Linked DNA regions of Homo sapiens: regions 1 and 3 are each linked to region 2. A link means that fine-mapping ties the variant in region 2 to the expression of a gene that starts in the linked region. Tissue or cell type: whole blood. Region 2 holds a variant in brackets; each other region holds the start of a gene. Each region is shown on its reference strand, or each on the opposite one.

What was found.
Region 1: it holds the start of ACADVL, and the variant in region 2 is fine-mapped to the expression of ACADVL in whole blood (TOPMed, PIP 0.94).
Region 3: CREB3L3 starts here. The variant in region 2 is fine-mapped to the expression of CREB3L3 in whole blood (TOPMed, PIP 0.99).

What each region holds. Positions count from the first base shown.
Region 1 is chr17:7,218,423-7,220,922 of GRCh38, forward strand. It overlaps ACADVL (acyl-CoA dehydrogenase very long chain), which reads left to right and starts at 1,516. Exons shown (of 20, transcript NM_000018.4): 1 at 1,516-1,624; 2 at 1,700-1,775; 3 at 2,042-2,107; 4 at 2,182-2,254; 5 at 2,344-2,408. The coding sequence starts at 1,563. It also overlaps a transcript of DLG4 not described here. RefSeq lists a silencer at 1,640-1,849 and an enhancer at 1,808-2,415.
Region 2 is chr22:46,218,173-46,221,012 of GRCh38, forward strand. It overlaps PPARA (peroxisome proliferator activated receptor alpha), which reads left to right. Exons shown (of 9, transcript NM_005036.6): 6 at 91-229; 7 at 1,640-1,842. Among named protein-coding and RNA genes, the nearest start is that of CDPF1, 31 kb to the right of the region's middle. The variant G/A (reference allele first, on the strand shown) is at 1,307.
Region 3 is chr19:4,152,201-4,155,040 of GRCh38, forward strand. CREB3L3 (cAMP responsive element binding protein 3 like 3) reads left to right here and starts at 1,431. Exons shown (of 10, transcript NM_032607.3): 1 at 1,431-1,574; 2 at 2,699-2,827. The coding sequence starts at 1,548.

The sequences.
Region 1 (2,500 bases), not on the chromosome of region 2:
GGCAGGACCCTGCATGGTGCTCCAGCTTGGACCAAATGATCTCTGGGCTCCCAAACAGCCCCCGAAGTTCAGTAATGGCCCTTGGAGGCCCAGGTCCCTCAGAAAACGGGCTACTCACCCAGCAAGGCCTGGAAGAGGTCGCTATGCAGCACTGTGAGGAGTGGGGGTGCCCACCGCAGCAGTGGGGGTGCCAGGAGCCAGAGGGCTGACCTGGGAGCTAGTGAGATGCAAGGAGAATTGGGACAGGGAAGATGCCAACACAGGAAGATGAACACACTGTCACTTCATCTCCCCAGACTGTGCCCTTCACCCCAGCCCCTACGGAAAGATTTGGGGAGAAGGATCTCCGAGCCCCAGCCCCCCACTTCGCTCCCAGACCTCCCCTCCACAAGGAGCCCTGTTTTTCACCTCTTGGTCTCTGGGACATCTCTCTCTTCTCTCACTTTAATCTCCCTAATCCTCCAGGATTGGAGTTGAGCTGCTTCTCCCCACTAAATTCCAGCTGTGAGTAAAGTAGGCCGTCTCTGAGCCGACCAGCTGTCCCATTCCCCCAGGTCCCAAGGCACCAGCACCGCCACCATCTTGCTCCACACACCCTGGCCCCCTCTTCCCATAGGCAGGCAGAACCTAGCCACGCTCTCCTGAGAAGCCAGCAAAGAGGGCCTCCTCACAGAGGGCTCCAGCAGCTCAAAAAGAAGCTGAGCCCAGCTCTCTCTCCTCCTGGGCCTCCTCTCACCCCAATGAGAATTGCAGAAAAAGGGGTAGAAATTGTTTGGGACTTCCTGCCCTAGGGCTAGAGAAGTTGGGGTTTTACGGGTAAGAGGCAGGAGAATTCCTGCAGTTCCTCTCAGGCCCGGGAGGAATCCATCTGCCTGGGCACATGGTCTCTGGAAGGAACAGAGGGCAAAGACAGAAGGGAATGTTCAGGAAGGTCTCAGAGGCTTTACTAAGGGAGGGGCAGTGAATCTGGGGGGGTCTTCCTACTGTGAAACTGTAGCTGTTCCAAGAGTTAGTGAATGGCCTACATCTCAGAAGAATACACTTAGGGTACTCACACCCTAGCTTGGGTGCCCCCCACCACTGTACCCTCCCTTTTGTGTTGGCCGAGATAGATTTCATCAGGAACCCTAGAGTCTGTCTTTCCATGTCTCTGCCTCTGCCATCTACCTTACACTTCTCTTTCCCTACTTTTCCCTTCTAACCCCACCGGAGAAGCCCTCCCTTCAGTCCACCTCCATCCCTCTGGCTGCAGTGACTTAAGCCCCTTCCTCTTCTGTCCCATCCTATCCCATCACCCCGTCGGAGGACTAGACTCTAGGTCGGACGGGCGGGATTAAGGAGTTTGGGGGAGACGAGGGACGCTTGGAGATCCCTCTAAGTCAGCGGAACGCAGGGCCGGGCTCCAGGGAACTACAGCTCCCAGCATGCCCCGGGGCCCGCAACCGTCCGCCGCCCGGTGCACTGTGGACGATGAGTCAGGGTTAGGGGCGCCAGGACGTGGGCGTGCAGGACGCCAGAGCTGGGTCAGAGCTCGAGCCAGCGGCGCCCGGAGAGATTCGGAGATGCAGGCGGCTCGGATGGCCGCGAGCTTGGGGCGGCAGCTGCTGAGGCTCGGGGGCGGAAGGTCTGTGTGTGACAAGAGGGACGGTGGGCAGCGGCCCTGGGCACCGGGCCGGCACTGAACCCCCACTCCCCACAGCTCGCGGCTCACGGCGCTCCTGGGGCAGCCCCGGCCCGGCCCTGCCCGGCGGCCCTATGCCGGGGGTGCCGCTCAGGTAAGTCACCGCAGCCTTGGCAAGGGGGTGTGGGAGCGGCGGTCCGCTTCGGCGCCCGCCATCGGCAGGGATCTCCCTCTTGGTGCCAGGTACCTGCCTACTGCTCAGTCGCCGAAAGTAGGGGAAAGGGCAAGCCAGGGTGCCCTAGGGCGAAACTAGGGGAAAGGTCACCGCTTCGCGCCGCCTCCCCGCGCGGCTCTCGCCTGTTCTCCCCTTGACACAGCGGAAGTCCCTTCCCTGAACTTGCTAACCGTCTCTTTTCCCAGCTGGCTCTGGACAAGTCAGATTCCCACCCCTCTGACGCTCTGACCAGGAAAAAACCGGCCAAGGCGGTAGGTAGCCCCGAGGCCAGGTGGACCTTAGCCAGACCCAACCAGAGCCCTGAAATTTGCCTCTCTCTGCCCAGGAATCTAAGTCCTTTGCTGTGGGAATGTTCAAAGGCCAGCTCACCACAGATCAGGTGTTCCCATACCCGTCCGGTAAGGGAAGGGATAATCAGAGCTGGGTGGGGCCAGGGTGGTTTCCCCTGCCAGCCTGGCCTGACCAGCCTGTCCCCCACCCTCTGCAGTGCTCAACGAAGAGCAGACACAGTTTCTTAAAGAGCTGGTGGAGCCTGTGTCCCGTTTCTTCGAGGTAAGGAATGACTCGGGGCTTGGTCCCTGGTGAGGTGTTTGGAGATGTTAAGCTCAAAAGGAGCCTGGATGTGGGATCCTGTGCCTTCCCCA
Region 2 (2,840 bases):
ATAAATGAGCAACAAAAAAGGTGAGTAAAGCAAGTGCGCTGGTTTCTCAGTGGCCCAGGTCTTTAAATCCACTGTGTATTACCCTCACAGGGCTTCTTTCGGCGAACGATTCGACTCAAGCTGGTGTATGACAAGTGCGACCGCAGCTGCAAGATCCAGAAAAAGAACAGAAACAAATGCCAGTATTGTCGATTTCACAAGTGCCTTTCTGTCGGGATGTCACACAACGGTAGGTAAGGTGGCCCTGCACATTTTCCCAGTTCGTTCCTCAGTTCCCCTTCCTTGCTCCAAGGGAACAGATCAAGCTATGGATGAATGTGCTTCAACATTTCACACCCAAGTCATTTTGTAATCAGAGTGGCCTAAGAAAATAAAAGTCGCCCAGGCGCGGTGGTTCACGCCTGTAATCCCAGCACTTTGGGAGGCTGAGGTGGGTGGATCACCTCAGGTCAGGAGTTTGAGACCAGCCTGGCCAATATGGTGAAACCCCGTCTCTACTAAGAATGCAAAAATTAGCTGGGTGTGGTGGCACATGCCTGTAGTCCCAGCTACTCGGGAGGCTGAGGCAGAAGAATCGCTTGAACCCGGGAGGCGGAGGTTGCAGTGAGCTGAGATTGCGCCACTGCACTCCAGCCTGGGCGACAGAGGGAGATTCCGTCTCACAAAAAAAAAAAAAAGAAAAAGAAAGAAAGAAAGAAAATAAAAGTCTCCCAGGTGCGGTGGTTCACACCTGTAATCCCAGCACTTTGGAGGCCGAGGCGGGTGGATCACTTGAGGTCAGGAGTTTGAGACCAGCCTGGCGAACATGGCAAAACCCCGTCTCTAATAAAAATACAAAAATTAGCTGGGCATGGTAGTGCACACCTGTAATCCCAGCTACTTGGGAGGATGAGACAGGAGAATAGCTTGAACCCGGGAGGCGGAGGTTGCAGTGAGCTGAGATCGCACCACTGCACTCCAGCCTGGGCGACAGAGTGCGACTCCGTCTCAAAAAAAAAGAAAAAAAAAGAAAAAGTCTCAAATAGCTGAGATTCAGTGGTGCATTGGACTCGCTGTTAGAAACTTCAGTGGTAAGACTTTGATACAGAATCGAAAAACCAAGTGGAAGGCACCAAAATGACAGAATGTTCACCTCGTCCATAGGAAGGGTGTACCACCTCAAACATCTCACCACGTTATGAATTTCCTTCTAGCCAATCATTTAATAGTTTCAGAACATGCTAATTGTGATGTGAATGTAAGTCGTTCATAAGAGTTGCATGTCTACCTTCTGGAAAAAGAAGCAGTTATTATATAAACTCATCCC[G/A]AAGCCCCGTTCACCTCCTTCACTCAAAGGTTGATGATGCACCTGATAGTGGTGTGCACCCTACTAATGAGACGAACGATGGTGTCACCTTCAGCCTGCACCTGTTAACGATGGTGTCACCTTCAGCCTGCACCTGTTTAAACATCTACAGTGTATGGAGTTTGAGTTTTTCATCTCTCCATAGTGGAAAGCCGAATAGTAATGAAGGATGGGTCTGAACTGCCTGTGAATTTTCATTCCTGGTTTAAAGTCCTGGGGGAGCCCCTCGTCCAGCCCTGTCCGCGCAGTCATGACCTCACTGCTCATGCCTGTGTTTCCCCCTCCAAACCCTAGCGATTCGTTTTGGACGAATGCCAAGATCTGAGAAAGCAAAACTGAAAGCAGAAATTCTTACCTGTGAACATGACATAGAAGATTCTGAAACTGCAGATCTCAAATCTCTGGCCAAGAGAATCTACGAGGCCTACTTGAAGAACTTCAACATGAACAAGGTCAAAGCCCGGGTCATCCTCTCAGGAAAGGCCAGTAACAATCCAGTAGGTGTTTGCGGCTGTTCTGGGTTCTCTTGGCAACATGGAACCAGTGTCGTAGAGGACGATTAAGGACACATGTGTTGAATGTTGAGAAAATTATATTTATCCCACAGTTAAGCAAAGGACAGCGAAGATGGAAACAGTTCATTCTGAGACTCTGAGCTGTAGCTTAACAACAACTCCTTTCTTCTTGCTTGGAGCCACCTCAAAGCTCTTAGCAACTAAGTTATTATACTGGCTATGTAATTAATACACTTAAAAAAAACCTTAATAGCTTACCAAGTACTAAGATGATTTCTTAGGAGCATTTTTTCTTAAATAGAGATAGGTTCTTGCTCTGTTGCCCAGGCTGGAATGCAGTGGTGCAATCATAGTTCACTGCAGCCTTGAACTCCTGGGCTCAAGCAATCCTCCTGCCTCAGCCTCCCAAGGAGCTGGGACTACAGGTGTGCACCACCACACCTGGCTATGTTTGATGTTGTTGTTGTTTTGTTTTGTTTTTGTTTTTTGGTAGAGATGAGATGTTTCCCAGGCTGGTCTCAAACTCCTGGCCTCAAGTGATCTTCCCACCTCGGCCTCCCAAAGCACTGGCATTACAGGTGTGAGTCATGGCACCCAGCATTAACTGGATTTAAAAAAAAAAAAACTGACCAGGCAAGATGGGTCATGCCTGTAATCCTGGCACTCTGGGGAGGCCAAGGTGGGCAGATTGCTTGAGTCCAGGAGTTTGATACCAGCCTGGCCAACATGGAGAAACCCCAACTCTACTAAAGATACAAAAATTAGCTGAGCAGGGTGGCACACACCTGTAATTCCAGCTACTTGGGTGGCTTAGGCATGAGAATTGCTTCAACCCGGGAGGCAGAGGTTACAGCAAGCTGAGATCATGCCACTGCACTCCAGCCTGGGTGACAGATCGAGACCCTATCTCAAAAAAAAAATAGAATAATAAAATAAATCCCTACTTTGAGGTGTATTAGTCTGCTATAAAGAAATCCCTG
Region 3 (2,840 bases), not on the chromosome of region 2:
CAGATGTGAGCCACCACGCTTGGTCTAATATGTCATCTGCTAAAGGGGGACTTTGCCTGGGCACAGTGGCTCATGCCTGTAAATCCAGCACTTTGGGAGGCTGAAGCAGGTGGATCATTTGAGCCCAGGAGTTTGAGACCATACTGGCCAACACAGTAAGACCCCATCTCTATAAAAAAAAAAAAACAAAATTAGCCAGGTGTGGTGGTGCACGCCTGCAGTCCTAGCTACTTGGGAGGCTGAGACGGGAGGATCACTTGAACCCAGGAGTTGGAGGCTGCAGTGAGCTATGATCCTGCCACTGCACTCCAGCCTGGGCAATAGAGTGAGACCCTGTCCTCCACCAACACCAAAAAAAAAAACAAAAAAACAAAACAGGGCTCCTCTCTCTTGGTAGGGGGTGGAGGGGAGGTCAGAGACACCTCTCAGCCACCCGGGCTGATTCACAAATATCGAACATTCACTAAAATGTCAATACAGTGACCTAGAGCCAGAGGGGAAGAGGGAGGGTACAAGAGGAGAGTTCCAGGCAGAGGGGCGAGCAGGTGAGTAGGTGCAAAGGCCCTAAGCAGGAACCAGTTTGGCTCCATAAATATTTGTTGACTCAATGAACGATAGAAGATTCTAGAGAGAATTGATTGCACAGAATCACCCATGGGGACTCAGAGGCGGAGTCCAAGCTGGTTTCGGAGGGGGCTGGGGGCCGGAGGTTGGCAGGTGGGGTGAAGGATGGGAGCCGCTAGCTGCTGGCAGGAAAACTGGCTTCAGTGAAGATCTGGTCTGGTCCTCTTGGTTTGTTTCTGTCCAGGGAGTGGACAGGACCCATGTAAGGGCCCTGGGCTATCCCAGAACCCATCTGGGAATTCTGAAGAGAAAAAGTCCTGTAACTGGCCGGGTGCGGTGGCTCACGCCTGTAATCCCCGCACTTTGGGAGACTGAGGGGCCGATCACGAGGTCAGGAGTTCGAGACCAGCCTGGAAAACATGATGAAACCTCGTCTCTACTAAAAATACAAAAGTTAGCCGGGCATGGTGATGGGGACCTGTAGTCCCAGCTACTCGGGAGGCTGAGGCAGGAGAATCACTTGAACCCAAGAGGCAGAGGTTGCAGTGAGCCGAAATGAGATGGCACCACTGCACTCCAGCTTGGGCCACAGAGCGAGACTCCGTCTCAAAAAAGAAAGAAAAAAAGAAAAAGTCCTCATAAGTAGGGCAGAGGTCACGGCAGAGTGGAGGTACCCCAGACTTCGACCTTTGCTCACTGAGGGCTGGAAAACCACAAAACACCCAGATAACGGTCTTCCCTCCCCTGCTCCTGCCTGCCCCAGTGTCACTGGCCCTCAACCCTGTCTCTCCACCCTGTCCACCAATCAGCACCTGGAGGTGGGCTGGGAGCTGCCTGTGACCGCTTCAGCATCTTTTGGGAGTGGTGACAGAGCCACAGAGGGCTGTGAGCTTGCCCGGCCCCAGGTAACGCTGGCGGTGGGTGGGCCTCCAGCTTGGAGCAGAGACCCCCCGAGGCATCTGCAGACAGAACTGGATGGACCCATGAATACGGATTTAGCTGCTGGAAAGGTGAGCCCTACTAGGTCCCCAGGGAGAGCGGGAGTCTAGGCTGGGAAAGCCTACCCAAGCTGCCAGAGCTGGAAGGACCCCATCTCCACCCCTATTGTACAGATGGGAAGACTGAGGCCCAGAGAAAGGATGCAATGAGCAAAACTGTGTGCCTTTGCCCCGGGGCTGCCCTTGTCTTTCTTCCAGGTCCCCCTGCCTCCTAGGAGCGGGCACTTGGGGAGGCTGTGAAGGCCTGAGAGGCAAGCGGCATCTCTAGCTAGGGCCTCTCTCCAGCACTTTTTATTTTATTTTATTTTATTTTTATTTTTATTTTTTGAGATGGAGTCTCCCTCTGTCACCCAGGCTAGAGTGCAATGGCACGATCTCAGCTCACTGCAACTTCCACCTCCTGGGTTCAAGAGATCTTCCTGCCTCAGCCTCCCAAGTAGTTGGGATTACAGGTGTGCACCACCACGCCCGGCTAATTTTTGTACTTTTCCTAGAGACAGGGTTTCACCATGTTGGCTAGGCTGGTCTCAAACTCCTGACTTCAGGTGAGCTGCCCGCCTCGGCTTCCCAGAGTGCTGGGATTACAGATGTGAGCCACCGTGCCTGCCATACTTTTTTGTTTTTTGAAACAAGGTCTTGCTCTGTGACCCAGGGTGGAGTGCAGTGGGGTGGCCATAGCTCACTGCAGCCTCAACCTCCTGGGTTCAAGGGATCCTCCTACCTCAGCCTCCCCAGTAGCTGGGACGACAAGTGTGTGCCACCGCAGCCAGCTAATTTTTTTAAATTATTTGCAGTAGGGATAGGGGTCTCTATGTTGCGCAGGCTGGTCTTGAACTCCTGGGCTCAAGTGATCCTCCTGCCCCGGCCTCCCAAAGTGCTGAGATTACAGGCATGAGCCACCACATCCAGCCTCTCCAGCACTTTAAGAGAAATTGGCTCTCACACTGTGGAATTCTCTCTATCAGCCTCAAAGTCCAGATTTGGAAAGGGAGTCTCAGCGAGGGGCAGCAGCTGGCCCAACCCGGAGGCAGAGCGGCAACTGAACTCTAGCCGGAAAGAGCCAGGGTTATGTGCACATGGGAGGTGGGGAGGACAGGGGCTGTATGTGACCCTCACATCTGTTCCTCGCGCCCCAGATGGCTTCTGCTGCCTGCTCCATGGACCCCATCGACAGCTTTGAGCTCCTGGATCTCCTGTTTGACCGGCAGGACGGCATCCTGAGACACGTGGAGCTGGGCGAGGGCTGGGGTCACGTCAAGGACCAGGTGAGGAGTCCAC